Linked DNA regions of Homo sapiens. The protein of the gene in region 1 purifies or fractionates together with the protein of each later gene. This does not show direct contact. Each region holds a gene or a part of one and is shown on either strand. Other genes may lie near its edges.

The links.
Region 2: the proteins of TRIO (region 1) and EIF2S3B purify together in Homo sapiens (affinity purification with mass spectrometry, with the first as the bait; one large-scale study listed by BioGRID). This does not show direct contact.
Region 3: the proteins of TRIO (region 1) and RPE fractionate together in Homo sapiens (co-fractionation; one large-scale study listed by BioGRID). This does not show direct contact.
Region 4: the proteins of TRIO (region 1) and SSU72 fractionate together in Homo sapiens (co-fractionation; one large-scale study listed by BioGRID). This does not show direct contact.
Region 5: the proteins of TRIO (region 1) and C1QTNF1 purify together in Homo sapiens (co-immunoprecipitation; one large-scale study listed by IntAct). This does not show direct contact.
Region 6: the proteins of TRIO (region 1) and CFAP45 fractionate together in Homo sapiens (co-fractionation; one large-scale study listed by BioGRID). This does not show direct contact.
Region 7: the proteins of TRIO (region 1) and EMID1 purify together in Homo sapiens (co-immunoprecipitation; one large-scale study listed by IntAct). This does not show direct contact.

What each region holds. Positions count from the first base shown.
Region 1 is NC_000005.10:14,503,342-14,506,841, forward strand, and holds part of TRIO (triple functional domain protein), read left to right. Parts: intron 1-1,051; coding exon 1,052-1,252; intron 1,253-3,500. UniProt on the Homo sapiens protein: Guanine nucleotide exchange factor (GEF) for RHOA and RAC1 GTPases. Involved in coordinating actin remodeling, which is necessary for cell migration and growth. Plays a key role in the regulation of neurite outgrowth and lamellipodia formation.
Region 2 is NC_000012.12:10,504,019-10,508,913, reverse strand, and holds EIF2S3B (eukaryotic translation initiation factor 2 subunit 3B), read right to left. Parts: upstream 3,025-4,895; 5' UTR 3,012-3,024; coding exon 1,593-3,011; 3' UTR 389-1,592; downstream 1-388. UniProt on the Homo sapiens protein: Member of the eIF2 complex that functions in the early steps of protein synthesis by forming a ternary complex with GTP and initiator tRNA.
Region 3 is NC_000002.12:210,019,638-210,023,434, forward strand, and holds the end of RPE (ribulose-phosphate 3-epimerase), read left to right. Parts: intron 1-31; coding exon 32-154; 3' UTR 155-2,623; downstream 2,624-3,797. Other genes in the region: KANSL1L (KAT8 regulatory NSL complex subunit 1-like protein), read right to left, coding at 3,312-3,542. UniProt on the Homo sapiens protein: Catalyzes the reversible epimerization of D-ribulose 5-phosphate to D-xylulose 5-phosphate.
Region 4 is NC_000001.11:1,564,382-1,568,555, reverse strand, and holds part of SSU72 (RNA polymerase II subunit A C-terminal domain phosphatase SSU72), read left to right. Parts: intron 1-3,639; coding exon 3,640-3,783; intron 3,784-4,174. UniProt on the Homo sapiens protein: Protein phosphatase that catalyzes the dephosphorylation of the C-terminal domain of RNA polymerase II. Plays a role in RNA processing and termination. Plays a role in pre-mRNA polyadenylation via its interaction with SYMPK.
Region 5 is NC_000017.11:79,030,324-79,034,497, reverse strand, and holds part of C1QTNF1 (complement C1q tumor necrosis factor-related protein 1 isoform 1 precursor), read right to left. Parts: intron 200-4,174; exon of another isoform or gene 1-199.
Region 6 is NC_000001.11:159,896,961-159,901,620, forward strand, and holds the start of CFAP45 (cilia- and flagella-associated protein 45), read right to left. Parts: upstream 3,206-4,660; 5' UTR 3,139-3,205; coding exon 3,136-3,138; intron 3,120-3,135; exon of another isoform or gene 3,019-3,119; intron 1-3,018. UniProt on the Homo sapiens protein: Microtubule inner protein (MIP) part of the dynein-decorated doublet microtubules (DMTs) in cilia axoneme, which is required for motile cilia beating.
Region 7 is NC_000022.11:29,226,102-29,230,275, forward strand, and holds part of EMID1 (EMI domain-containing protein 1 isoform 1 precursor), read left to right. Parts: intron 1-388; coding exon 389-450; intron 451-4,174.

The DNA.
Region 1 (3,500 bases):
GCTCCTGTTGCTGTCTCTGTCAGCTGTCTGTGGCTGCATAAAAAGTCACACCAGCACATGCTGTCTTAGGACAGTGGTGACATGTGCCTTCTTCCAGTGCAGTGGGCAGATGGGACCATTATTCTGTTGGCCTCTCCTGGCCTGGTCAGCTGGTGCACCATGCCCCATGCGTGTCAGAGGCGTTGTCTGGGACACTGGCCTCTTTCCACATCGACTTTCACCCTGGGCTCCCCCACGTGAGGGCAGTGGCATCCCAGAACAGCAGGAGCAGGAGCGTCAAGGCCTCTGAAGGCCCAGCCTCAGAACGACCAACGTCCTCCACATCCTGTGGGCCAGAGCCAGCCCCAGGCAGCCCTGATTCAAGGGGACGAATAGCCCCCGCCTCCGAGTGACAGAAGTAGCAAAACCGTGGCCTTTAACCACACAGTCTGCCCGCCACAGGCGCATCTCTGGTCCTCACATGTGCAGAATGCACTCACCCACCTCAGGCCCCCAGCCCAGGCCCCCACCTGAGGTCCAAGGCCTCGTCCAGATCGCGTTGAGTTGTGGCCAGTCCCCAGGAGTGGGTCATCAGGGGCAGCTCCAGGGTCCTCGTGCCTGCCCCACACACCCCCACAGGGGCGAGGCTGAGGCAGTGACCACAGCAGACGCACCTTTCAAACGTGCAGGGAAAGGTGGCTGACGGGAGGCGTGAGCAGCCATCCCAGCTTCTGCTCGTCGTGGGAAGCAGAAGGGAGTCGCCCGGCAAGGCCAAGGCTCAGAGGTCTTCCTCTGTCACTTCCACCACACGCAGTGCTGGGAAAGCAGCCACCGACGTGAGGAGACCAAGGCTGCCTGGGAGGAAGGACCAGCAGAACCGCGTGGCTGCGGGGACAAGGGCAGATTTGGGGGACAGCCATGGCACCACAGCCCCTCCGTGGAGTGGCCGGGAGAGCAGGGCCTCTGGACAGGGCTGGGCCACCACACAGCCAGTCCATTTAGGATAACAGAGTCTTTCTCGGTGCCAGACCTCAGCAGCCTCTGCAAATGGTCCCCCTGACATATTTTACAGGGGCAGATTCTCTGTCGTTAAGAAATGTGATCAGAAAGGAACCAAGCGAGCAGTGGCCACTAAGTTTGTGAACAAGAAGTTGATGAAGCGCGACCAGGTCACCCATGAGCTTGGCATCCTGCAGAGCCTCCAGCACCCCCTGCTTGTCGGCCTCCTCGACACCTTTGAGACCCCCACCAGCTACATCCTGGTCTTAGAAATGTGCGTACACACCTGGCCTTCCCTCTGCCCAGCCCTCTGCCTCCACCTCAGGGGGTTTTGTTGTTCCTGTTTGTTCTCTAAGAAGGATAGAAATTGGGTTTGTAGAATTTACAGAACTAAAAAACATCTTCACTGTCAGAGCCCGCAGTTTTCAAGCCTTCCAGTAATGGCAGAAAGCAGTGTGGTCTTCCACAGGGCGGTTGCCTGATGAAGGGCAGTCACTGCTGGGATGGAACACCTGATATGCTCAGCCAACCCGGAGATGCACCCCCCCCACCCCTTTTCTGAAGGTCCCATGAGGCCAGGCTGTCTCTGGTGCTGAACCCAAGCCCCCATTAGTGGTTGGAGGCTGACCTGATACCCCAAGCCTGTGCAGGGCCAGCTCACCCCGGATCAGCGGGGTGCCCCTCAGGCCTCCTGCCAAGTGAAGGCCAGTTGGATGGGAGGGTAAGACGCACCTCCCCGCAGAATGTCCTCCGAAGAGGGGGCGCGGGCACACCAACCAGAGCTGCCCCTCTGGTCCCCGTTGTACTTACTGGGCTCCTGTGTAAGATCAGAAAATAATTTAGTCACGTCAAGAAAAGAGTTTGAAACCTGTGTCCCACAGGAGCGGTTCTCATCTAGGGGTGGGTTCTCGTGGAAATGTCAGGAGAGCTCAGGCTGGGGGTGAGTCCGGCAGGGAGCGGCCGGAGGCCAGGGATGCCACCCAACCTCCTGCAAGGCAGGGACAACCCCCATGGATTCATCCACCCCAAACATCTGTGCATTTAGCTTTGAAAAATGTCGATTCCTCCTTTTTAGGGGGAGTCATTTTATACATTTACTTGCATTTACAGCTGCTTTTCCATGGGGAAGGGTAAAACCTTTTGTCACCATTTGGGAAGTTTGCATAGCTTCTTCAGTGGGAAGGATAGGATTAGCAGGGCGCCCCCATGGGGTCATGTAGGGGCAGACTCAAGCTCGGGGCCCCTCGCCGGCAGGAACTCCCTCCAGGCCCTGTACCTGATGTTGTAGTTATTGTCATTTTTTTCTTAAAGAAACTATAAATGCCTCCCCATACCCTTCCTAGGGCAAGGCTGCCACAGCGTCCCACATGGCCCCACATGCAGCCTTACCAGCTTCCTCGGGCCGCCCATGTGCCATGGGTGACAGTGGGTGTCTCAGGAAGGCCTCCCACCCATGGCTGCACAGCTAGAACCTCCCCCAGCACATGGGGACGTGCTTCCAGCCCGTCTTTCAAGAATAGAAAACACATCTCATGGCAGAAGGGCAGACGGTGGGGCGCAGTGAGGCTGAGCAGTGTGTATGGAGAGGAGGTCCACTGGCCTCGCCTGGCCTCAGTCCCCGCCCTCCCTCTCATCGGCTCATTTCTCACCCTGGTGTCCTTAAAAGTCACACTGGCTTTGGAGGGTTGTCGTGGGGCCGAGATGGGGCGATGTGTGTGGAAGAGCCGAGCCGACATCCAAGCCGAGGCCTGGCCTGGGAGCCTCAGGACCCGGGAGGTCTCCTTTCTGGCTCCAGACGCTGGTGACCAATGGCCACTGCTCACCTTCCCTGGGGAGTTTTAACAAAACTGTGGCTTGAGTGCTTGTCACAAATCTCCTAAAGGCCTTCGTTTCTGGACTGACATTTCAGTGCTTTCAGCTGTCATTTCTGGGAAACAAAATGGTTTGGCCTCACCATCCTGTTAATAGGATCCGTTTTCATGACAGATTACTCCTGTTCTCACCGGCGACTCCCCATTGCTAGACAGGCAGCTGATCTTCCTACAGATTTCTGTTTTGCAAAGAGAGCAGCATAGGCCGGTGTTGAGAGAGGTGGGGGCCAGACCACCTCAGTCCAATCCTGGCTTCTCCACTCTGGAGCTGTGGGACCTTGGGAACGTTTCATGCTTTCTCTGTCCTGAGTTTCCTCGTGTATCAAATGGGTACACTAAGGCCCACTTCACAGAGAGTCATAAGGATTAAATGAGTTGTTAGAAGGCATTGAGCCCCTGGCACTTGGCAGTGCTGGGTAAGTGTTTTTTTAGTATGAACAGTAGTTTCAGAGGAGGAAGTCTTCTGAGTCCAACACTGAGCACTCAGTGTGTCACCTCCTGCCCAGCCTGTGGTTACATGATCTCGGTGAGTCTTCCCGTGGCCCATTCTACAGGTGAGGAAACTACAGCTCCGAGAAGCATGAGCTACTTGCCTTCCTTCAGCAGATACCGCAGGATGCCTGCTGCACCTGGCACTGCCGGCAGCCGGGC
Region 2 (4,895 bases), on another chromosome or scaffold:
TCATGTGCTTTAACATATAAGAGATTTTAACAACTTTTCTAAGAATTTATATACACATATGTACACGCAAGTTTTTATACTTAAATCCTGTATATGAAGAATTTTTTTTCTATGAGTCTATGGTTTCATAACTTTAAAAAGCAGAAAAATTTTAATTTGCCCTACACTAACAAAAGAAAAAATTTGATTATTCACATTTATTCCCTTAAGCTAATAAGGGAATATATTTTAATGTTATATATGGAGATTAATATTACTTTAGGTCAGCAGGAGAACCCAGGGATGTATAATCACAATGCCGTCTTCAGGGCTGGTTAAAGTTTGAATTACTTTATCAGAAGAACATGATAGAAAATATATTTTCTTTTTTTTTTTTTTTTTTTTTTTTGCTTTCTAACATCTTTTACTTATTGACCTTTTGAAACATCCAAAAATTAGTAATATTATAATCTGTGTCACAATCATATAACAGTTAAGAAAAAACATAAAATGAAGGCCTAGAAGGATCTTTGTTACTCATCTAGAATTATTTGGTATAACAGTATTTTCCAATGGAGGAAGACTATTGGATTTCAGGCATAAAACAATGCAGAAAAACATCTCAAGGCATCACAGGGAGAGGGAGATAACTTCTGACTCTAGTTTCCCGTATTTCAGGCCAGGAAGAGCAAGGGGAGAAAATTATTTGCCCATGGGAACAAGTAATCATGCTCTAAAGGACAATTTCATTCGAACCCATTCGTGCATCCTTTTCATGCAATTCGAACCCATTCATTGCATCCTTTTCATGCAAAATTTCAAAGATAAAGCAACATAAAATATGGGGCCAAAGAAAAGGGAGAAGGTCTTCAAGGATAATTTGTGCCTTTAAGTTTTTACTGGTACAACAGTCCTTCAGCCTGGAGGTACTCAAAGACGAATCATGAAAAACAAAAAAAAACTTTATTTCGAACAGTTTCAGTGATATATGTGTGTGCTACAGCAAAGGCTGGTTGTGGCAAAGTTTCATTTCAAACTGCATGATGTGGGCTAGGCAAGGTGGCTCACGCCTGTAATCCCGGCACTTTGTGAGGCCGAGGTGGGCTGATCACCCTGAGGTCAGGAGAGACTGGCCTGGCCAACATGCCGAAACCCCGTCTCTACTAATACAAAAATTAGCCCCGTGTGGTGGCACACACCTGTAATCTCAGCTACTTGGGGGGCTGAGGCAGGAGAATCGCTTGAACCTGGGAGGCAGAGATTGCAGATCATGCCACTACATGCCAGCCTAGGTGACAAAGCCAGACTCAAAAACAAAACAAAATAAAACAAACAAAAAAACTGCATAATGTATAATTTTGACATTATGTGGGAATGCTTAACTTCTGCCAAAATGTAGATTCAATCCAACATTATGCCAATTTTTATACTAATTGTAGTCCCTAAGTTTTCATAACCAAAAAAAAAAAGAGAGAATAACCTTACCGTTACCTACTAAGGTAACAAACTGTGAAATCAATTCCCCAATATCGCTTTGAAAATAAACCCCTTGGTTGTTAAAGAGAAATTGCAACTTCCAGCTCCATCCGAATGTATTATTTAACCGGTATTCTTCAGTCATCATCTACTGTTGGCTTGATTGTCACTCCTCTTCTTATCTGACCCCAACCAATTAAACGCCAGTGTTTTTCAACTCTTCGGCTAAGGGCAATTTTTTCTCCTACCTCTGTGCACACTGGATTGGTCAAAACAATTTTGCCCAAATCGGCCTTGACAGCACTAACTCTCCCTCCTGTCGACAGGGATCCTATGTTCACCATGAGCACTTCATTCTTAGACAGCTTTTGAACCTTTGCTGCTTTCTTGTCTCCTTCAGTGCGTACACCTAGAAGCCGTCTAAGCAGGAAATAGGAAATTTCCAATTCTGTGAATATCTCAGGTAAAGCTCCGACTGCACCAAGTATTTGCCCCACCATTCTGTCAGCCCGGCACAAAGTGGGGTCAATTTTTGTTCCAACTCCAATAAGACCGCCTGGAGCAGCATATTGCAGATCATTATGCTCCGCAAAAAGTGAAACAATTTTGGAAAAGATTGATTTACACATGAGTTTTCCTTCACTATCTTTGGAAACAATACCAGGTCTTACTTCTGTCTCCTGGCCCACCTTTAATACTCCTTTTAGGATACTACCACCAGCTACACCTCCCTTAAGGTCATCAACTTCACAGCCAGGTTTGTTGACATCAAAAGATCTAATAACAATAAGCCGGGGCTCTGAAGTAAAGTCTCTTGGGGGTACTGGAATTTTCTTTACTATGTACTCACAAACAACTTCAATATTGTATTTCAGCTGAGCCGAAATTGGAATAATGGGAGCTCCCTCTGCTACTGTACCTTGGACAAACGCAAGGATCTGCTCGTATTGTTCTTTAGCCTGCCTTTCTTTTACCAAATCAATTTTATTTTGTAGAATCAAAATATGCTTCAGTTTCATGATCTCTATAGCAGCCAGGTGTTCAGATGTCTGAGGCTGAGGGCAAGATTCATTACCAGCTATCAACAGAAGAGCTGCATCCATCACTGCTGCACCGTTCAGCATAGTAGCCATCAAAATATCGTGGCCAGGACAGTCAACAAAGGAAACATGTCTGACTAATCTGAAGTTCCCTTTGGTTCCTGGAATGTCTGTAGGAAACTCATCAGGCATACTGCTCCCACAAGATCGATAACATTCTGGCCGAGGGCAACTTGGGTCATCAAGTTGATAAATCTTAGCATTAGCATATCCAAGCTTGATTGTAATATTTCTTTCTAGTTCATTTTTGAACCTGACGGTGTGAACTCCAGAAATAGCTTTGACGACTGTGGATTTCCCATGAGCTACATGACCAATTGTACCTATATTAATTGTGGCTTGTCTGCTGATAACTTCGTGTGAAAGTGGCGTCAACTTGGTAACATCCAAGGTGGTGAGATCCTGACGCGAAAGGTGCGGCTGCCCCAGAGTCACCCCAGCTTCTCCGCCCGCCATGTTGCCAAAAGAGGAAGAAAGTCACCCCGGCTGCCGCCTGATCGTCTGCAGGGGTCCTAGTGCGGGGCGGGGATGCGGAGGCCGGAAGGTCGACTAGGGTCTCAGGATGGCCGGTGCAGCAGCGGCCTCAGTGCTTGGACTTCTCTCTGCTTGAATCTGCACAGTGCCTGTCGGTAGGCTTACTGGAAAACACGGTGCAAAGTTGCTGGAGCTATTCGTCGCAGACTTGGTAGATATTTGTGCAGGCAATACTGAGGGCAGCCACCCAAACCCCCGCCCCCTGGGCCCATGCGAGGCGGGTCGAAAATATATTTTCAGTTGACCACAGATAAATACTTAAAAAATTAATGGACCATTGTAATCTATTTATATGAAAATGGATCTTGTATATACAGCCTGCTATTACATTTCTAAGAAGACACAAAACCAGCAACACACTGAATAATTCTACACTAAATATTTTTCTTCTTTAAGAAGATTAATTATTAATATATTTATTTTTTGTTCGAAACAAATAGCTATGTCGTGGTTTATATTATAATTTTCATTTCTTCAAATTATGTTGGAGTGATGACCATTAATAGATGCTATATTGGAGATTTATTACAATAGCTTTATTGAGGTATAGTTTATATACAAAAAAACTGTGCATTTTTAACGTATACAATTTGATGAGTTTGGACATATGCATACATTCGTAATACCATCACCCAATGAAGATAGTAGGCATGTTTATCATCTACAAAGTTTTTCTTGAGTACCTTTATTTTGGGAGCAGAGGGCAAGTAAGACACTTGACATGAGATCTACCCTCCTAGCAGATTTTAAAGTGATCAACGTATTGTTGCTAACTATACGTACTATGTGGTACAGTATATCTCTAGAACTTATTCGTCTTTCGTAACTGAAACTTAACCAATTGAAAGTGAGTCCCTGGTAACCACCATTCTCTGTTCCTATGAATTTGACTACTTTAGATAACTCATATAGTATAATCATAAAGCATTTGTTCTTCTGTGACTGGCTTATTTTATTTAGCTTAATGTCCTCAAGGGTCATTCATGTTGTCATGAATGGCAGAATATTCTTTCTTTAAGGCTGAAGAATATTCCATCATATGTACATACTACATTTTCTTTATCTGTTCATCTGTCAGTGTACATTTAGGTTGTTTAAATATTATTTATTCTTGATAATCCTACCATTGATGTGGGAGTGCAGATATCTCTTCAAGATACTAATTTTAATTCTTTTGGATATACTGTATACCCAGAAGTGATATTATTGGGTTATATGGGTAGTTTTACTCTTAATTTTTGAGGAAGCTCTATACACCTTTTTCATAGTGCATTCTTATCAACAATGTGCTAGGGTTCCAATTTCTTCACATTCTTACCAACATATATATATATATATATATATATATATATATATATATATATATATCTTCATATATATGTATATGGATATATTCGTTTTAAGGAAGAGGGTAATAAATGAAAGTGAGAGGATGGCTCATCTCCTTCTTCTGGGTATATATGAATGAATATATGGATATGTGAATGTATCCATATATATATATATATATATATATATGTAAAATAGTCATCCTAACAGGTGTTAGGTAGCATCTTAGAATATTTCCCTAATGATTAGTGATGTTGAGCATTTTTTTATATACCCACTGGCCACATGCATGTCTTTTGTGGAGAAATGTCTATTCAAGTCCTTCATCCATTTTTTAAAATTGGGCTATTTTTTGTTTTTGGTATTAAGTTGTAGAGGTTCCTTATATATTCTGGACATTAATACCTTAACAGATATGTTATTTGCAATGTTTTCTCAAATCTATAGGTTGCCTTTCACTCTGCTGTTTCCTTTGCT
Region 3 (3,797 bases), on another chromosome or scaffold:
GAGGCATAACCTAACTGTTTACTTCTTCCAGGCAGGAGCTAACATGATTGTGTCTGGCAGTGCTATTATGAGGAGTGAAGACCCCAGATCTGTGATCAATCTATTAAGAAATGTTTGCTCAGAAGCTGCTCAGAAACGTTCTCTTGATCGGTGAAACCATAAGGAGCCCAGTGTTCCTGTTCATGAAATCTCCCTTTTACTGGAAAACAGGAATATTGACTACCAAATCACAATGCAATTGAAGCCGTACTGCTTTTTTGAGCAGTTATTCATTCCAGTGATTAAAACTGATTGTGCAGAATATTCTAAGAGGTCAGAAATTGGTGTGTATAACTACATTTTTAGTGATGCAATTTATTGATTAGTGAGTAAGATACTGTTTTTATTGAGAGATTTGATTTTTATAAAGTAAAAATACGGCTGCATTAGGGTTACAAACAGAAAAGTGTCTTAATGTCTAAGGAGGGCATATTAGCTACACTACAAAAACAAATTTTGTCTGTACTTCTGAAAAGAATTTTGTTGTTTCTCAGCTGTTTTCCAAAAGCAAAGGAAGTCTTTATGGTTTTTTTCTATTTCATGTTATTGTGATTTGTTTATAAGTTTGGGTGGGGTGCATACCATATTCTTGGTTCTTAAAATCTATCACTTTTCACCTTACACTTGATGTGTGAAAACTATAAAAACAATGTGTGAAACCCAGGGGTTCTAAAATACAAGCATAGATTTTATCAGGGTGTTTTGTCAAAGCAGGTTATTCAGTGATTCCTCCCCACCATTCTTAAGAACGTTAAATAATGCTGTTGTGTTAGCTCTGAGTAGAAAGGAAAAAGTAAAACCTCTGTTTGGAGGTAATATTGGGTTGAATTCTGACTGCCCCTTTCTAGCTGGACCTTTAACAAATCACCCAATCTTTTTTGTGTTTCTCTAAAGTCATTTATACATTAAATGTAATTATAGCAACTGTGGGGTTCTGTTGAGAATTAAGAGCTAACACTATATATGTAAAGTTTCCAGTACTAGTCCCAGAATTTAGAATATGCTCAACACAAAGTAAACAGCATTATATAAGTTTATATTTTTGTGAGTTATAAAGTACTTTGATATATTCTCATTAAATCTGTAAATCACCTCTATAAGTAAGTGGTAATAATAAAGCAGATATTTTTGTCCCCATTTAAAAAATGAAGAAATTAATGCTTAATAGGGTGGTACCCTGGAAAGGATCTGGGAAGTGGTAGAATTTCTGGTCTGTACTTTTACAAATGGAGCCCTTGGGAGGTGGGTTAGGTAAAAGAAGCTTTTTACTTAACGTTGTCTTATTTCCAGTCTAATTTTACGCTGTAGCAGAACCAGATGGCTGAGAAAATTCTGGAACTATGGATCTTGACCCCAAGGATATATTATTTTATTCCAAGAAAGATCAGGTAGGCGAAAAGATGACAGGATACAGAGTCAATCCATAAACTAAATATTTATAACTGTTCTGAATTATACAGAGTCTAAAAATATGTGTCAGCTACTTCATTCCTGTAAATACTCTTGCTGTGTTATAAATATGGCAAGAAATAAACATGACCAATATCAATAGACTTCTTGAGGCTACTATAAGTTTTGAGAAATAAGGTTCAAAAAATAAGAATGCTAACACTTAAGCACAGACTAGAGCTTGCTTGGGTTTCTTCCTGCATTACAAGGTAAAAATTTGTTAATGTTTGTTTTTATTCAGCTTGGGAAAGCTTTGTGCCATGAATACGTCGCATTTAATAACAAGCAACACACGGCATATAGAAATAACTTTAATTAAAAAACTTACATAGAAGATTATAATATCAGACGTGACAAAGATTTGAGTTTATTTGCCTGGACAACTTGGGTTTGTCTGGCTTTTGTTTTCTTTTTCTTTAAAAATAAATGTACAGTAAAACTACAAGCAAAAGTTTGTCAGTATTGAATTGAATTTTTTACCCCTTAAAAGGACTAGTATAATTTCCAATCTCTAACAAAAACTTAGTGTCAAATCTCACAGATAAGGCCAAATGGCCAATATTTTCAGTTATGTGGGTAGTACAACTTGAGTAACCTTTTTTACATGACAAAAAGTGAGTTATATAAATTGTCCTCAACTTTCACATAGGAAAAAAATGGTTTAATAGCTTCAAAAGGAATTTTCTTTCATGTATACTCTTCAGTATCCAATATTGAAGCTTTGTTCTTTGAAAAATTTTAATTTCCAATCTAGGATGCAAGCAAGAATATATGTTTATTTGAATAGAGTAAGCTATGGCAAAGAATGACCAAATTAGCTAGAAATAGAAATCAGCCAGAATTAACTAATTTCTTGCTAATCTAGAAATACAATCATCTTTTTTTTTTTTTTCAAATTTTATACTGATAGGGCTTTACTGTTTGTGGCTCATTTTAAAACTGGTGTCTTCTCTTCATGAGACACATTAATTGGTAAAACTCAAATTGAGTTTTCAAAGATGTGATAGTATTAAAGTGCACCAATATTTGACTCAAATTTGCTTGCTTTATTTTGTTAGGAGTAAACAGAAAGTAGCCTGTGTTTAGTCCCAAAGATAGCAGTGATTTTGAATAAAGGAGTTTTGTGTTGCCTGGATATATGAATTTCTGTAAATAACTTCTGTTGGTTAAACATGTTAAAACAACAACAACAACAACAAAAAACTTCTGTCTCTATATTCAGGACGTTCAGATGTCTTTTATTAGTGGAAACCTGTGTTTTATCTATTCTGCAGCTTACATTTCATAGGGTAGTTCATACATGCATTTCCAAGGGGAGTGGGTCATTGCCAGTGTTTTAAAAACTACATAGGGGTGTGTGTGTGTGTGTATGTTTATTTTATACACACATATTTGTATATTCTAATATATTACTAAGGCAATTTTAATGAATTACCATGTATATAAAAAAATAGCTGTCACTTGGCACACAGGTTTGTATGTATGTGTATATATATATGTATGTATGTATGGTGTGGGTACATAGTCTTAAAAATTACCCAGTAATGTGATTTGACATCAAGTTGCAGCAATTAATATCTTGGTGTTTGTAAGTAAGTTGCATGATAAACACAAATGACTACCACTTGTCTGTAGATGAAAATCTGGTTACCCTTATGGTTCCAGAAGGAAAAACAGACTTATCTTGCCTGTTTCATAAACAGCATAAAAGATTAATACATGCAGAACATGCTCTTATTCTGGAGGGGATGGGGGATCCAGAACAGGGCTTTATTTCCTCCCATCTTTCCTACATTTACATAGTTTTCTTAACCTGTTCCCTGTCACCTATTTTTTTTAACATTAGTAAGTCCTAGACCAAAGGTTTTGTATTCTTCCATTCCATCTGACTGCTTTTTTGGATGGTGGCCATTCTCTGGTACACTGGTACCGAAGATTTCACCATGGAAAGCTGTGCTTGACCTTTCAACCTGATCCTTTTTTTCATCTTGACATAATAAGGCTGCCATGTCTTCACCCTTCAGTGGAAAAGCCCGTCGTTCCCACCACAAAGACTGAAAGGGGAAAAATTTTCAGTTAAGTTTCAACTAACTTGTTTTGTTTAAATTCATCTAACAAGTAATCTGTACATGTCTATATTGTAATAATTGTTCTGTTCTTTAGCACATAAATGTACAATTTTTCATTTCAACTTAAATAGCAACTCAAAATGGAATATATTGAGAATTGTTGAGTGACTTTTGGGATTTATTTCTTTACTTTGCCTCTGCCAAGAAGAGGAAATGCTGCCATAGGCAGTGGTCTTCATT
Region 4 (4,174 bases), on another chromosome or scaffold:
CGGGGCCCACTGCGACCTCCACCTCCCGGGTTCAAGCGATTCTCCAGCCTCAGCCTCCGGAGTAACTGGGATTACAGGCGCGCACCACCACGCCTGGCTTTTTTTATTTTTTTATTTTTTTTTTAAAGTAGAGACGGGGTTTTGTCATGTTGGCCAGGCTGGTCTCAAACTCCTGAGCTGAAGTGATCCACCTGCTTGGTCTCCCAAAGTGCTGGGATTACAAGCCCTCTGATAGATTTTTGGTACTTGTAAAGACAGTTGTTTGGCATACCAGACAAATACTTGTCTGGAAGATTAGTTTACAAAGGCGTTGGCCCTTCAGGCGAAGCCTGTTGGTGTCAGGAGTGTTTTCCAAGCTGTCCTTGCTTTTATGTAAGAAACGCTGTTGAGTCGCAAGCTGGCTGCCCTGTCGGTTGCATCAGTTTGGGAGAAATACTGCTTCTGTTGCTAAATAGCCTTTTTGCCATTCGTGAACCTTTTGTTGGGGGAAAAACAAACTGCATTTTGTTTTTAAATAGGCTAACTTAAAGGAACGTCCAGCAGGTGGTGAGTTCTTGTTGGTGTTGGGAGGCAGGCTGTCTCCTTTGGCTGCTGTGATCACGCTGATCCTGGGCTTCTTTGTGCGATTTTTTTTTTTTTTTTTGAAACAGAGTATCGCTCTGTTTCCCAGGCTGGAGTGCAATGGCGCGATCTCGGCTCACTGCAACCTCCGCTTCCGGGGTTCACGCAATTCTCCTGCCTCAGCCTCCCGAATAGCTGGGATTACAGGCGTGTGCCACCATGACTAATTTTTGTATTTTTAGTAGAGATAGGGTTTCACCATGTTGGCCAGGCTGTTGTCGAACTCCTGACCTCAAGTGAGCCACCGCGTCCGGCCCTTGTTTGTGCTTTGACGGAACATATTTTATTGTATGTTGTCTGAATTGGTAAGGAAGTCATTTTAGGCTTGTTGTTTCTCACGTGTGCTCCCTGTGGTATGCCTTGTGTCTGGGCCTCCGTCACCCTCTCAGTCACAACCAACAGTTGACTTTATTGCTTTAACCTCATGTTTCCGTCAGGATCTGTGGTTATGACTGAATGTCAGGAATTTTAATTTTAGCATTTTCACGTTTATTTCACAGTCCGGGTGCCGTGAACACGGGTTTGTAGTCATGAATCGCTGCTATTGTGCCACATTTCTGGCCGTGTGTGGTAGATGTTTGGAGAGCCGGGTTGTGTAGCTCGGAATATCTAGGGATGTAAGGACTGACGCAGCTGTCATCAGCCTCAGGGGACTCAGGTGTTTCACGTACACTAGATGAGCACATCTTCTCTGTGTGTGTGGGTGACGTGTGTGGTGGCGCAGCAGGGTGCCCTTGGGCTCTTTTGCTTCCTCTACTCATCTTCGGAGGTGCGCGTGGAGCCGCATGGCCTGTCCTGCCCCATGGATGGATTATTCTACTTGTCTGTTCTTTTGTGGCTGTGGAAGGCCGGCAGTGGGCATCCTGCAGGCAGCCATGTTGCAGAGGCACGTGTATGTCCGTAGGGCGGGTTTCTAGAAGCCAGTGTCTGTGAGAAAGGCACAGGTAGTTTTCACTTGCTGGGTGTTGCCCCATTATCCGCATAGAGACTGGTTACACTCCAGCAGCCCCCTCTGCCTGAGTTTTTCCTCTCTTGTGACACTGTTACTCATTCAACATTCAGTAATTTTTTTTTTTTTTTGAGACAGGGTCTCGCTCTTGTCGCCCAGGCTGGAGTGCAGTGGCGCGATCTCAGCTCACTGCAACCTCTGCCTCCCGGATTCAAGTCATTCTCCTGCCTCAGCCTCCCGAGTAGCTGGGACTATAAAAGCGCCCGCCGCCTCGCCCGCCTAATTTTTTGTATTTTTAGTAGAGATGGGGTTTCACCATGTTAGCCAGGCTGGTCTTGATCTCCTGACCTCATGATCTGCCCACCTCGGCCTCCCAAATTGCTGGAACTACAGGCGTGAGCCACCGCACCCGGCCTTACTTTTCTTTTTTTAAAATAATATGGAACTCCTCACGTGTCTGTGTGTCATTCTTGCTCAAGAGCGAAGCAGCAGCACTTTTCTGAACAAGAATGACAGGCCTGTAAGAGGAGTTTAGTGTTAATGGAAGTGTATGTGCGCCCTGCGCCCTGAGCCAGGCAGATTCCTTCAGATGCAAACCTTTTGTGATTTATAAATAAAGCTAGGTTGAGAAGTCTATATTTTTTAGGTAATTATAAGTATCAGTTGTGACTTTACAAGAACACATGTTCTATACCAAAGTAACTTTTTTTGTTGTTTTTTTGGGACAGAGTCTCGCTCTTTTGCCCAGGCTGGAGTGCAGTGGTGAGATCTCCAATGTCTGCAACTTGTGCCTGCTGGGTTCAAGCGATTCTCATGCTTCAGCCTCCCAAGTAGCTGGGATTACAGGCACGCACCACCATGCCCAGCTAATTTTTTTTTTTTTTTTAGTAGAAACGGAGCTGGGGTTTCGCCTCCTGGCCAGGCTAGTCTGAAACTCCCAGCCTCAGGTGATCCATTTGTCTCGGCCTCCCAAAGTGCCTGGATTGAAGGTGTGAGCCACCGCACTCGGTGCCAAAGTAACTTTTTTACATGTAACTTGTTGTGACAAACTTAAGTGTGCTTGTCAGCGATGACAGAAGAATTTTCTGGTCTTACCACACTCCATCAGTGTTTGGAGACGACCTCTCTTTCTCCTTGCGTGAACTAGAGCTCATTGGTGGCACATGACACACGTTTCCTGTTCAGCTCTTTTCTCCAGTTGATTAGGAAAAGTATTTGGTCAGTTTCCTCACCTGTGACTAGGAAGTCCAAGGAACAAGCACCGTCGGACCCATCGCGGCATCTGTTCTCTGCCTGCAGCAACCCTGAGCCTGTGGGACTCCTTTGGGTGTTGGGTCTCGGTTCCCATGGAGCCACATCGTGGGGGTGTTGGGAAACTGGGGGAGACAGAGTTTCCTGTGGTGGAGCGGGCAGTTGGACCTTTGTGAGTCCCTTAGGAATCCTGTGAACTTGGATCCTCCAAAGCCAGGACGTTGGTCGATGGCCAAAATGTTCTGATGAAATCTTCCCCAAGTCCACATCAGTCAGTCCTTTCAGTTTAAAGTAAAGCCTTAAACAAGCTATGATGTTCAGATGTGGCTTTGTGATGGTCAGTTCTGGTTTGATTGCTTTTGTGTAACTTGCTACAGCCTGTCGCCCAGGCTGGAGTGCAGTGGTGCTATCTCTGCTCACTGCAAGCTCCGCCTCCCGGGTTCACGCCATTCTCCTGCCTCAGCCTCCCGAGTAGCTGGGACTACAGGTGCCCGCCACCGCGCCCGGCTAATTTTTTGTATTTTTAGTAGAGACGGGTTTTCACCGTGTTAGCCAGGATGGTCTTGATCTCCTGCCTTCATGATCCGCCTGCCTTCATGATCCGCCTGCCTTCATGATCCGCCTGCCTTGGCCTCCCAAAGTGCTGGGATTACAGGCGCGAGCCACCATGCCCGGCCTAGATTAAAAATTTGAAGACATATTCTCTACTATGAGCCAATGAAATTACTCATTTTGTTTCTATCCCATTTGCTGTCCCTTGCTTTTGGAATTTTGTGTCTTAGTGTGACTGTGATTCTTTCTCTCCTTTTGTCTTTCAGCAAACGGGGATTCAGCGTCCGATCCTTTGGAACAGGGACTCACGTGAAGCTTCCAGGACCAGCTCCCGACAAGCCCAATGTTTATGATTTCAAAACCACATATGACCAGATGTACAATGATCTTCTTAGGAAAGACAAAGAACTGTATCCCAGCGGGTTGCCCTTTAAAAACCCCCCGTGTGGTCCTCCCTGGAAGGTGTTACGTGTGGCTCGGGCACAGGAGGCGTGTCACCCTGTGCAGTGCACACACTGGCTCCTCTGTCTTTGCGAGAGCTTGGTTTCTATTCCTGGTGCACGTCGGATCGTCCACGGGTTAGTTCCAGTGCCACCCATGGCAGTAGGCGTGGTGAGGCGCACAGACACGGTGTGGGGTTCACCCTGACGTGGTTCAGCAGAGGGTCGTGACATAGCGTAGACCAGGGATGCTTAGGTGAGGAGGTGGAACCCACAAAATCCCATTGCTTTTCACACTGCAGGGCTGCCCCGTTATTTCCTTTGCAGGTTGGTGTGCGTGCGTGTGTGCGTGCGTGCCTGA
Region 5 (4,174 bases), on another chromosome or scaffold:
CCAGGCCCTGCAAACAAGGAGGCCGCATGAGCCGTCAGGCATCGGGCCTTCGGGGCGCTTGGCCAGCCCAGCCTCCAGAGCTCCGATTCCGTCCCAGTGGAAACAAAGATTTCCTTGAGTAGAGCAGCTGTCCTCAGCTCACCTCCCAGCTGGAAGGCCTCGGGCGGCAGGCTTGCCCCTGCTTTGAGAACCGTGTGAGAGAGAAGAGGCACCAACAGCTGTCCTGAGCCCACTCTGCAGGTGGCCTGGCCCGCCGCCCACTTCCCTAGCACCAGCAGCGGGGACGCCCTCGGGGACCGACCGCTCCCAAAACAGAGGGAGGAAAGAACCTGGGAATTCTATGGCCTGGTGCCCCGTCGCACCCAGCCCTTTACAAGCAGCACAAACGTATTTGGTTGTCTGGGGCCTGGACAAGCCCCAGCATTTTCCAGGCAGCTCCTGAGGAAGCCTGGCATAAGACAGGGCTTTATCCCCAGCCTGGGGCTTCTAGGTCAGGAATATAATCAGCACAGCATCCCACTGGCCCTCCTCCTGCTGGCCCCGCCCCGACTGCTTGGCTACGATCACCCACGACCCTCGTGGCACCCAACACCCTTCTGCATTCCTCTTTCGTGCGCACTGTAAGCATCTGCCAATGTCGACTGCCCTCTTCTTCAGCCATGGGGTTTGGCCCACACTGTCTCCCAGTGTTTAGCCTTCCTGATCAACCCCCAAAGACAGGTGCTCTCCCAGGCTGTTCCTCAGCTCTCAGCTCCTCTTGCTCCTAATTCTACATTTATTTATTTATTTATTTAGGAGACAGGGTCTCCTGTCACCCAGGCTGGAGTGCAGTGGTACAGTCATGGCTCACTGCAGCTTCAAACCCTTGGACCCAAGTGATCCTCCCATCTCAGCCTCCCGGGTAGCTGGAACTACAAGCACATGCCACCACATCCAGCTAATTAAAAAAAAAAATTTTTTTTTTTTAGAGACAGGATCTCACTATGTTTCCCAGGCTGGTCTCAAGCAATCCTCCAGCCTTGGCCTCCCAAAGCGGGTAGGATTATCAGCGTGAAGCCACCGTGCCTGACCTCTTTCTGCCTGTCCTGGTCCACACCACATCTTCAGCTGACAATGCCCCATTCCATGTCCCCACCACTGACCTGGCTGCTGAGACCTGGGCTTGCAAATGTTTAAGTCAGTACAGTGGCTACGAGCCACATGGAGCTATGTCAGTTAAACAAAATGAAACATCCAGTTCTCGGCCAAGGAGCCACATTTTAAGTGCTCACGTGACTAGCAGCTGCCATACTAGACAGCACAGCTCTTAGCACCTTGCACCACAGCTGAAGGTTCTGCTGGGCAGCGCTGGTCTAGACCCACATATGCAATCATCTGCTGAACACCTCCTCTTTGCTCTGCGCTAAGACTTTTTTTTTTTTTTTTTTTTGAGACAGAGTTTTGCTCTTGTCACCCAGGCAGGAGTACAATGGTACAATCTTGGCTCGCTGCAACCTCCGCCTCCTGGGTTCAAGCAATTCTCCTGCCTCAGCCTCCAAAGTAGCTGGGATTACAGGTGCCCACCACCACGCCCAGCTAATTTTTGTATTTTTAGTAGAGATGGGGTTTTGCCATGTTTGTCAGGCTGGTCTCGAACTCCTAACCTCAAAGCGATCCACCCGCCTCGGCCTCCTAAAGTGCTGGGATTACAGGTGTGAGCCACCGCACCAGGCTGCTCTGCCCTAAGGCTTTTAAGCCCCCAATTAACTCATATCCTTCTCCCCCGTCCTTACCACATTAGCTTCTCCTCCTGTGGCTTGCAGCTTGGTGAAAGCTATGCATGCCATCACGCGGGGTCCCGGGCCAGAAGCCTGCAAGCCACTTGGATGCCACCTTCCTTGCACCCGCCACATCTCATCCATCGCCAGCCCCCTGCAGGTCTCCTCTCCTCTCCATCACTTCTTCCCCAGCCCTGGCTGGTTTTCTGCCTCCCATCTGTCTCCCACGCTGCTTCCAGAGGCAGCTCTGAAAAACGCAAATCTGAATGCCACCCCTGGCTCCAAGGGCTTCCTATGCCAGTAAAGGAGGGAGTAAGCCCTGAGCGTTTCCATCTGGCCCTTCCCCACCCCGCGTGAGTCCCTTTCAGTCCAGCTCCCTGGAGCTACTCAGTCCCTAACAGATCACACTTGAGGTCTCGTCCTCTGGCACCCGCTCTTTCCTCTGTCTGGATGCCTGTTTCTCCTCCACCTTCTCCATCCGTGTATTCTCCAGAGCTCAGCCTGAGGCCACCTCCTCCGGGAAGTTGCCCAGACCTGGGTGTGCTGTAGGTGCCCCTCCCCCAGCATCCGGACGAACCGGTCTACAGTCCTTGGTTTCCTCGTCCTGTCCCCAAGACTCCAAGCCCCTGGGAAATGGGAGCCCCATCTCATTTCTCAGGCATCACCAGCATCCGGTGTCTAACTCTCAACAGGGCTCCAATGCTCTCCTCACCTTCAATCAATCCCAAGTACAGAGCCATCGTCCAAAGATGACATGCCTCAGCCACAAGCCTGTCCAAATCTCTCTCTAATTCCAGCTGGGGACACAGAGATCCAAGGTACATCACTGTCACCAGAGTGCTGACTCCTGGTGTGGCCATGTAGCCATCTTCCCTAGAAACGCTCCTCTTATCTGCACTCAGAAAGTCTATTGCTTCAAAGAGATGAAACCACTGCCTCCATTCACCAAGGTTACAAACCACCTACATGTCCAGGAAGACAGTCTAATGAAATACATGGCTGGGTGCAGTGGCTCACGCCTGTAATCCCAGCACTTTGGGAGGCTGAGGCAGGCAGATCACCTGAGGTCAGGAGTTCAAGACCAGCCTGGCCGACATGGTGAAACTTTGTCTCTACTAAAAATACAAAATTTAGCCAGGCATGGCACATGCCTGTAATCCCAGCTACTCGGGAGGCTGAGGCAGGAGAATTGCTTGAACCTGGGAGGCGAGGATGCAGTGAGGTGAAATAGCACCACTGCACTCCAGCCTGGGTGACAGAGTGAAACTCCATCTCAAAAAAAGAAAACAAAAAATTTACAGTGCATCCATCCATATGATGGAAACTAGAAAAACAAGGTGGTTGATGAGAGTGGTGAAATCAGCAATAGGGAGGGATGGGGATTGTGGTAAACCAGTAAACGCGTTCTTTCTAAAGACATTTAAAGAAATAATATGGGCTGGGCACGGTGGCTCACGCCTGTAATCCCATCACTTTGGGAGGCCGAGGCAGGCAGATCACGAGGTCAGGAGATGGAGACCATCCTGGCTAACATGGTGAAACCCCGTCTCTACTAAAAATACAAAAAATTAGCCGGGCGTGGTGGCAGACACCTGTAGTCCCAGCTACTTGGGAGGCTGAGGCAGGAGAATGGCATGAACCTGTCAGGTGGAGCTTGCAGTGAGCCAAGATCATGCCACTGCACTCCAGCCTGGGCGACAGTGCAAGACTCCATCTCAAAAAAAAAAAAAAAGAAAAGAAAAGAAATAATATGGAGGGACTGGGGAGCAGAATCAGCCAGCAGCACCAGTTAGGCGTCTCTGTAAATAGGTGAATATTTACTGACATGGAAAGATGTTTGGGCCGGGCACAGTAGCTCACGCCTGTAATCCCAGCACTCTGGGAGGCCGAGGCAGGCGGATCGCTTGAGGTCAGGAGTTCAATATCATCCTGACCAACATGGTAAAACCCCGTCTCTACTAAAAAGTACAAAAATTAGCTGGGTGTGGTGGCGTGTGCCTAAAATCCCAGCTAGTCGGAAGGCTGAGGCAGGAGAATCGCTTGAACCCAGGAGATGGAGATTGCAGTGAGCTGAGATCACGCCACTGCCCTCCAGCCCGGACAACATAGCAAGACTCTGTCTCAAAAAAGAAAAAGAAAAGAAAAGAAAAAGAAAGGAAGGAAGGAAAAGAGAGAGAGAAAGAGAGGAAAGAAAGAAAAAGAAAGAAAGAAGAAAGAAAGAAAGAAAGAAAGAAAGAAAGAAAGAAAGAAAGAAAAAGAAAGAAAGAAAGAAAGAAAGAAAAGAAAGAAAGAAGAAAGAGAGAGAAAGTTTGTAAAGCAGTAATGAGTTTTGAAAATGCAGAATGAAAACATGCAGACCCAAACACACGCACATACAGGCACACACATACACATACACACACACACACACACACACA
Region 6 (4,660 bases), on another chromosome or scaffold:
CAGACTGTAAGAAACGCATAAGGCTGGGTGCAGTAGCTCATGCCTGTAATCTCAGCACTTTGGGAGGCCAAGGTGGGTGGATCCATCGAACTCAGGAGTTCAAGACCAGCCTGGGCAACATGGCAAAACCCCATCTCTACAAAAAATATGAAAATTAGCCAGGCACGGTGGCGTACACCTATAGTCCCAGCTACTTGGGAGGCTGAGGCGGAAGGATTGCTTGATCCCGGGAGGCAGAGGTTGCAGTGAGCCAAGGTTGAGCCACTGCACTCCAGCCTGGGTGACAGAGCAAGACACTGTCTCAAAAAATAATAATAATAAAGAAATACATAAGTATTCTTGGCCAGGCATGGTGGCTCACGCCTGTAATCCCAGCACTTTGGGAGGCCAAAGTGGGTGGATCACCTGAGGTCAGGAATTTGAGACCAGCCTGTCCAACATGGTGAAACTCGTCTCTACAAAAAATACAAAAATTAGCTGGGCATGGTGGCACACGCCTGTAGTCCCAGCTACTCAGGAGGCTGAGGCAGGAGAATCGCTTGAACCTGGGAGGTGGAGGTTGCAGTGAGCTGAGATCACGCCACTGCACTCCAGCCTAGGCGACAGAGCAAGACTCCATCTCAAAAAGAAAAAGAAATGTAGAAGTACTCTTGTAAAGATGTTTGTATGGCAGGTATGTGCCCAGAATGTATTACTGAAAGCATGTTCAAAAAAATGTTTAACAGTATGTCAGGAACCTTTACCATCTTAAGATGTTTCTTTATTGAATAATTTCCTGCAATGAGTAGATACCAATTTTATGACCAGAAAAAAAAAACAATAAAACAATTTTTATTTGAAAACAAAGCATAGCAATGGGCCTGGTGCCCGAACTCTGAAAGCAAGAGAGTACAGACCTAAAAAAGAAAACAAACAAACAAACAAACAAAAAAACCATAGCATTATATATTCTGGGATCCAGAATGTTTCACTCAAATTCAGCAAGACAAAGCTGGAATGGGGCTAGAATAGGTCAGTGTGAAGTTTCCCTGATGTAACTTCAACACCTGTCAACTAAACAGGTTGACATGTTCAGGAAAGATATGTCTTTTCCTAGATGTCTTACCCATTCTGAGATCTAGTTCTTCTTTTGCACAGTCTCCGCAGGCTGGCAAATTCAGGCTTCAAACTCTTGGCCTGGTTCTACTTCCCTTTCTGTAGACTTTGGTTACCAAGAAAGGGAGATTCCCATGCACGAGACCCCTTGCCTTTTACTCTGAGTGATCCACGCAATTATCCTCTTTCTTCAATTGGGACCAAGTTGGCCATCTGTAGGATGCCACCAGAAGATAACATCCTAGTCAGTACTGAGGTCCCCATCTCTCCTTCTGCAGGATTTTAATCATTATTTTTGTAAGAGTTCTGGAAGTCTGCCTAATTGTGACCCTCACCACCACTACTATCTCTTCTCATGCCTTTAAATATTCTCCAAACCTAGTGAGTAGCACTATACGTACACGAACACACACAGCTGGCCTGCCAGAGATCACTAACTTAGACCCACTGCTTCTCAAAGGTGTCTATATGCCCAGTCCTGTCCCAGGAATTACAGAGGGGCTCAGTGAGTGAGTCAAACCCCTGCCCTGAGTGGCTCCTGGATGGGGAATCCCTGATCTGGGTGCTCTGAAGCCCACAGGTCTTGCCCAGGTGCAACTTATGCCCTATGAGAGCTTGGAAATAGGAAATTTTTAAAAGAGGACAAAAGGGGAACTAACATTTACCATATGCCCTTAGACACCAGGCATGACAGTAGGTGTTCACATACATACATACGCCACTGTGTTTGTAAGGTGCTGAGAGAAGATGGGACACTGAATCAAATAGAATACATAAGTGAAAGGGGACGCTCCCCCACCCCAATTACAACACTGCAGGGAGTCCTCGAAAGTCAGGAACTGCTCTTTGTTGGAGACTTATTTAATAATTAACAAAATTCTTCTGAGGTCCACTGAGCCCCAGAAAAGCAATGCAGCCCCTGGGCCTGAAGTCTGTCCACAAGTACATCCAAGTAGCAACCTTTGCCACCTGTTGTGCCCCAGACATTCTAGGTCAGTTCCAATAACCCAAGACTCCAACACTTATCATCTGCCCTTCCCCTCCCCTCTGGGACCAACACACTCAAGCCCAGGCATCCCCTTCATGGTTCCTCCCAGGCTTTGCTGGCCTTCTCAGCCCTCAGTACCCTGACAGCCCTCCCCATCCCAGCAAACCCCAGGCTGCCAGTCCTGTCCCAATCTCTCTCCCGGGCCTTGCAAACCTGAGACCCTCCTCACTCACTCACTCATTTATTCATTCATTCATTCACTGCCAAATATTTATTGACTAACTACTGAGGGATACAAAGCCCTGCTAACAGAAGAAAAACCTGAGGCTCGGGCACATTAGATGACTTACCCACAGTCACCTTGCTAGTTAGTGGCAAAACAGGTACCACGACCCATTATCTGGCCTCCTCACCAGTGCTTTTTTTTTTTTTTTTTTTTTTTGAGACGGAGTCTCGCTGTGTCGCCCAGGCTGGAGTGCAGTGGCGCGATCTCGGCTCACTGCAAGCTCCGCCTCCCGGGTTCACGCCATTCTCCTGCCTCAGCCTCCCGAGTAGCTGGGACTACAGGCGCCCGCCACCACGCCCGGCTAATTTTTTGTATTTTTAGTAGAGGCGGGGTTTCACTGTGTTAGCCAGGATGGTCTCGATCTCCTGACCTCATGATCCGCCCGCCTCTGCCTCCCAAAGTGCTGGGATTACAGGCGTAAGCCACCGCGCCCGGCCCACCAGTGCTTTTTCCCACACCACATCCACAATCTTTGGTCCACAGAGGCCCCGCTGTAATGGCAACGGGGAGAGGGTTGGGGCATCCCTTTCTCCCCAACTCCTCCGCTCAGCGCGCTCCACATTTCCAATCGTTATCGATGCTATCCCTAATTCCTCTTTTGAACCCACCTCAGGATCTCCCTTGCTTCTTCTAGAGGTGTTCTCCTTACTCCTGGGCCCTCCTGACCCCTAGACCCAACTGTGACCTCCCCTAGGCCCCCACTTTCCCCACTCAGAGCCCCCACCCAATTCAGGACACAAGGGGCCCATCTGAGGTTCTCCCTCACCATCTCCTCAGCCACACGCCCTGACTCCGGACTTCTGCTGCCGCCTCGGCGCCGCCAAGGCCCTAGTGTTGACGCGTTACCTTGGCAACCACTAGCCCGCGTTCTTCGGCTCAGGCCCCGCCCCCGGCCCCGCCCCTCCCACCTCCAGCGGGCAGTTGCCTTGTGCTGGTGGCTTAGGAACCGGAGCCCGTCGCTCCAACCGTTGCAGCTCCACGCTCCAGCCCAACCGCGGCTCTGAAGGATTGACCCGCCCTGGCGTGCCCTGCTCTCCACTTTGGCTTTGGCCAAACTTTTCGGTCAGAACCCGAACCTAAAGAACTTACTATGGGCCGAGGGGGTTCTAACTGTCAGCGGCCCCAGGAGCCTGGCCCAGGGTCACAGTTTTCCCCTGGGACTTCACCTAGGTTGCTATGATTACTCTTGCCCCATTGCCCAGGAGGCGCCAAGCCAACCCCTGATGAGTGTAGTCTGCAGAGAAGCCAGCAGGATCAGGACAAACCAGTTCCACAGCAGGAGAGAATCTGGTCGGGTCAACAAAGAACTTCCAGCCCTGAGGATGTCTATGCAGTCTCAAGAGCAGTTTCTTAAATTGCGGGCCTCAAATCTGCAGCTAAGAATCACCTGGGAGAGTTTATTAAAAATGGAGGCCCTACATTAGAATAAGTCAAAAGCTAAGGAACTGACTTTGGGGAGCTTGTCTTTTAACACTTCCTAGCTGGTATGTATTGTTCTAGAAAGTACATAGGGGTTTTGTCATTTTTTCCAATTTGGTTTGGCCTCTCTACCTCCCAACTTGCAGGGCTGGCACTGAGCTCACTTTGGTAGGCTGCATGCTCCAAGCCTCACGAAGCTGTCCCACCAGACCAAGGACATTTGTCTTCCTCCAGTGCTGATTAGCTGATTAGCTAAGCTCTTGGTGTGACTCTGTGAGTCTCTGAGCTGCTTTCTCAAACCTCTCTCCAAACCCTCACAGCCAGTCTTTCTGAAGCTCTTACTCCAACTTGGGCACTGAAGGCTATTCACAAGCCCCGGGGGAATGGAAAGAGGGAGACAAGGTCACTTCTTGCTGCTTTTAAAAGGACTTACTCCAACAGGCTTCACATTCCTTCCCTAGATTTCCCAGCCTTTATCTCCTTTGGGATCAAGAGTACAAAATTGTGTCCCCTGCCCAGTCCCACCAAGTGTTGAAGGCTTAATCAGAGGGAGAAGGGAAGGCCTGAAGAGGAGGAGCACAGTCCCTGGGAGGCTTGGGACTGAGAGAAGGGGCTGTTTTGTTCGTGGGAACCTTCCTTACTAAGCCTTGGCATTAGAACCCCGTTCCCTGCAGCTCAGAAAGAAGGGAAGACAAGTAACCGGCCCACTGTGAATAAGGTGCTTCCTGTATTCACCCCATTCTCCCAGGCACATCTGCATGACATAGTTACTATCCGTGTAACCAAAGAGGAAACAAGCCAAGAAAAAACTGTCCAAATTGAAAATCTATTCTTTTCTCAGCCCAGGGTAACTCTCTGAAGAAAAGGTGCAA
Region 7 (4,174 bases), on another chromosome or scaffold:
TGTCTGAGCTCTAAACTCTTAGCCCATGAGGCTGGCTGGGGTCGCTGGAGAAGTCCTCAGCCTCATCCATGGCCCCCGCCCCATTGCCATTTCTTGGCTTCTGGGAAAAGGGTCATTTTGGACACAGAGGCTGCCAGGGGTCAGGTCCCTGGTCCTGCTGCCGGAGAAGCAGGCCACTCTGGAGGCTCCAGTGCCAAAAGGAACCCATAGGGTGAGGTCCCCCTGGACCCACTGTGATCCTATAGCCCTTCCCAAGCCTAAGGTCCCTCGTGGGTTGGGGTCATCAGGTATCTGACGCTTTCCTCCATCCCAACCCCCAGAGACTGAAGGGTTCTGAGGGGAAGCCTAGGACCCTTGGCCCTGGCCCCAGCTTCCTCCCTCCCCGCAGGTTGTCTCAACTGCAGCAAAGTGTCAGAGCTGACAGAGCGGCTGAAGGTGCTGGAGGCCAAGGTGGGTGAGCAGCTCCCTCCTGGGTGGTTGTTCCCTGCCACAGGCCAGTCCAGGCAACCACCATCCCACCCTCCCCACCTCCTTCCCCGCACCCCATGCTCGCACCCTCAGTGAACCCACAGGGCAGCTCTGAACTGACTCGGCGAGCAGCATCCCCTGTCAGGCATGTCATGGTCTCCTCCAGTGTCCCTCCCTAGGAAGCCTGCTCACAGGTCGTGCCTCAGTTTTCCCACCTGTCAAGCGGAGGGGATACTAGCATCCACTCAGGGAAAACTGTATATGTGAAGCGCAAGTCACAGCCAGCCTGGCCTGTTCTTCCTCCAGGAGGCCTGTGAGCTCCCTCCCATGGGGCTCCATCACCATCCCCACCAGATCAGCATAGACACTGCCCAGAGATCCTGGTAGGATCTCCTGCCTGCCCCTGCCCCATCCCCTTTCTCTATCCCCCCAACCCCCATCCATAATACTATCTTCCTGGTTTCAAAAACAAAACATCTATCACACATCTCAAATTATTTCAAGATAAAATGTTGTGTATTTTTTGTTTTGTTTTGTTTGAAACAGGGTCTTCCTCTGTTGCCCAGGCTGGAGTGCAGTGGCGAGATCTCAGCTCACTGCAACCTATGCCTCCTGGGCTCAAATGATCCTCCCACCTCAGCCTCCTGAGTAGCTGGGACCATAGGTGAACAATACCACATCCAGCTAATTTTTAAATTTTTGGTAGAGATGGGGTTTCTCCATGTTGCCCAGGCTGGTCTTGAACTTCTAAGCTCAAGCAATTCACTGTCTTGGCCTCCCAAAGTGCTGGGATTACAGGTGTGAGCCGCTGCGCTGCCATAAAACTTTTTTTTTTTTTTAAATTAAAAAGTACTGCTTGGCGCAGCGGCTCACACCTGTAATCTCCATACTTTAGGAGGCCGAGGCAGGTGGATTGCTTGAGGCCAAGAGTTCGAGACCATTCTGGCCAACATGGCATAACCCTGTCTCTTTTAAAAATACAAAAATTAGCCTGGCATGGTGGCACACACCCATAATCCCAGCTACAAAGGAGGCTGAGGCTTGAGGATCACTTGAACCTGGGAGGTGGAGGTTGTAGTGAGCCAAGATTGCGCCACTGTATTCCAGCCTGGGTAACAGAGCGAGACTCTGTCTCAAAAAAAAAAAAAAAAAAAAAAACAAATTAGGCCAGGCGCAGTGGCTCATGCCTGTAATCTCAGCATTTGAGAGGCCGAGCCGGGTGGATCACAAGGTCAGGAGTTCAAGACCAGCCTGGCTAAGATGGTGAAACCTCATCTTTACTAAAAATACAAAAAATTAGCCGGGGCCGAGTGCCGTGGCTCACGCCTGTAATCACAGCACTTTGGGAGGTCAAGGAGGGCGGATCACCTGAGGTCAAGAGTTCAAGACCAGCCTGACCAACTTGGAGAAACCCCATCTCTACTAAAAATACAAAAATTAGCCGGGCATGGTGGCGCATGCCTGTAATCCCAGCTACTCGGGAGGCTGAGGCAGGAGAATCGCTTGAACCCGGGAGGCAGAGGTTGCAGTGAGCCGAGATTGTGCCATTGCACTCCAGCCTGGGCAACAAGAACGAAACTCCATCTCAAAAAAAAAAAAAAAAAAAAATGAGCCGAGTGTGGTGGCAGGTACCTGTAATCCCAGCTACTTGGGAGGCTGAGGCAGAGAATTGCTTGAACCCAGGAGGCAGAGGTTGCAGTGAGCCGAGATTGCACCACTGCTCTCCACCCTGGACGACAGAGCGAGACTCCGTCTCAAGAAAAAAAAAAGTAATTAATTAATTAATTTAAATTAAAAAGTACAACATTCTAAATTTAGAAACATGAAAAATTCAGAAATGTGAAAAAACAGCCAGCAAACCATTCACAGCAGTTGCCCATGCCCCCAAAGAATGCAACTGTCGACACTTAAGCATCCTTTCTTCCAGATTTTCTAAACACACAGACATGCATACACTTTAGTGCCATTCTTTGCTCCATCATTCCCTTCTCTGGAAATTTATCTTTTGTTTGTTCGTTTTGTTTTGATTCAGAAACAGGGTCTTGCTCTGTCACCCAGGCTGGAGTGCAGGCATTGCAATCTGCCGTGAGTTGGAGCTCACTGCAGCCTCCAATTCCTGGGCTCAAGCTATCCTCCTGCCCCAACCTCCTGAGTAGCTGGCATTACGGACATGTGCCACCACACCTGGCTAGTTTAAAAAACTTTTTTTAGAGCTGGGGTCTTGCTATGTTTCCTAAACTGGTCCTGAACTCTTGGCCTCAAGGAATCCTCCTGCCTCAGCCTCCAGGAGTGTTGGGATTACAGATGTGAGCCATTGTGCCCAGCCTGGGAACTTAATGAGATTATCAGATGCAAAAATGTTTACCAATAGAGAAATTTGAAAACCAGGCAAAAGAAGGCATGGTTGTATAATTGTGGAGAATTCATTCTATGGGGCATTCAGCAGCCATTTACAATACTTCCCTTCCCTAATATGAAAAGATTTCTCTAGGCTGGGCATGGTGGCTCACACCTGTAATCCCAGCACTTTGGAAGGCCGAAGCAGGAGGATTGCTTGAGGCCTGGAGCCCGAGACCAGCCTGGGCAACATAGCAAGACTCCATCTCTACAAAAAATTAGCTAGGCTTAGTGGCACACAGCTGGCACACAGTCCCAGCTGCTTAAGAGGCTGAGGCAGGAGGATCACTTGAGCTCAGACGGACAAGGCTGCAGTGAGTCGTGATAGCACCACTGCACTCTAGCCTGGACGGCAGAGCTAGACCCTGTCTCTAAAATTAAAAAAAAGAAGATGCCGCTGGGCGCGGTGGCTCATGCCTGTAATCCCAGCACTTTGGGAAGCTGAGGCGGGCGGATCACATGAGGTCAGGAGTTCGAGACCAGCCTGACCAACATGGAGAAACCCCATCTCTACTAAAAGTACAAAATTAGCCAGGCTTGGTGGCGCATGCCTGTAATCTCAGCTACTAGGGAGGCCGAGGCAGGAGAATTGCTTGAACCTGGGAGGCGGAGGTTGCGGTGAGCCAAGATCACGCCATTGCACTCCAGCCTGGGCAACAAGAGCAAAACTCCACCTCAAAAAAAAAAAAAAAAGAAGATGCCCCTGATTTATCAAATGGGAAAACCAAGCTTCCAAATAGCGTGTGCTGGCACCTGAGTTACAAGGCACGGGGTTCCAGGAGCAGTTCCCTGAGCTCCCTCCCAGGAGAAGCCCATGTAAGAGGCAACTCAGTCCCACATCTTGATGGGAATTCCTGGTTCAGGATCTGCCAGAGAGTTTCAGCTTTTCTCTGGACAGGCCCCCACGATCCCTGAGCCCCTGATCTGTGGTCATCTGGCCTTTCGTTGGTCCTCAGCAGCTGAGGGGACACTTCCAGCTTCCCAGAGTCTTCCTCACCATGGGCCCAAAAGTGGACTTTGTGTACACCTCCAGGTTTCTATTTCATGTCAGACTCTTCCAAACTTCCTTCCAAATTTAGTGAAAGGCCGGGAGTGGTGGCTCACGCCTGTAATCCCAACACTTTGGGAGGCTGAGATAAGCAGATCACTTCAGGTCAGGAGTTTGAGACCAGCCTGGCCAATGTGGTCAAACCCCATCTCTACTAAAAATACAAAAATTAGCTAGGTGTGGTGGCGCATGACTGTAATCCCAGTTACTCTGGAGGCTGAGGCAGGAGAATCACTTGAACCCGGGAGGCGGAGGTTGCAG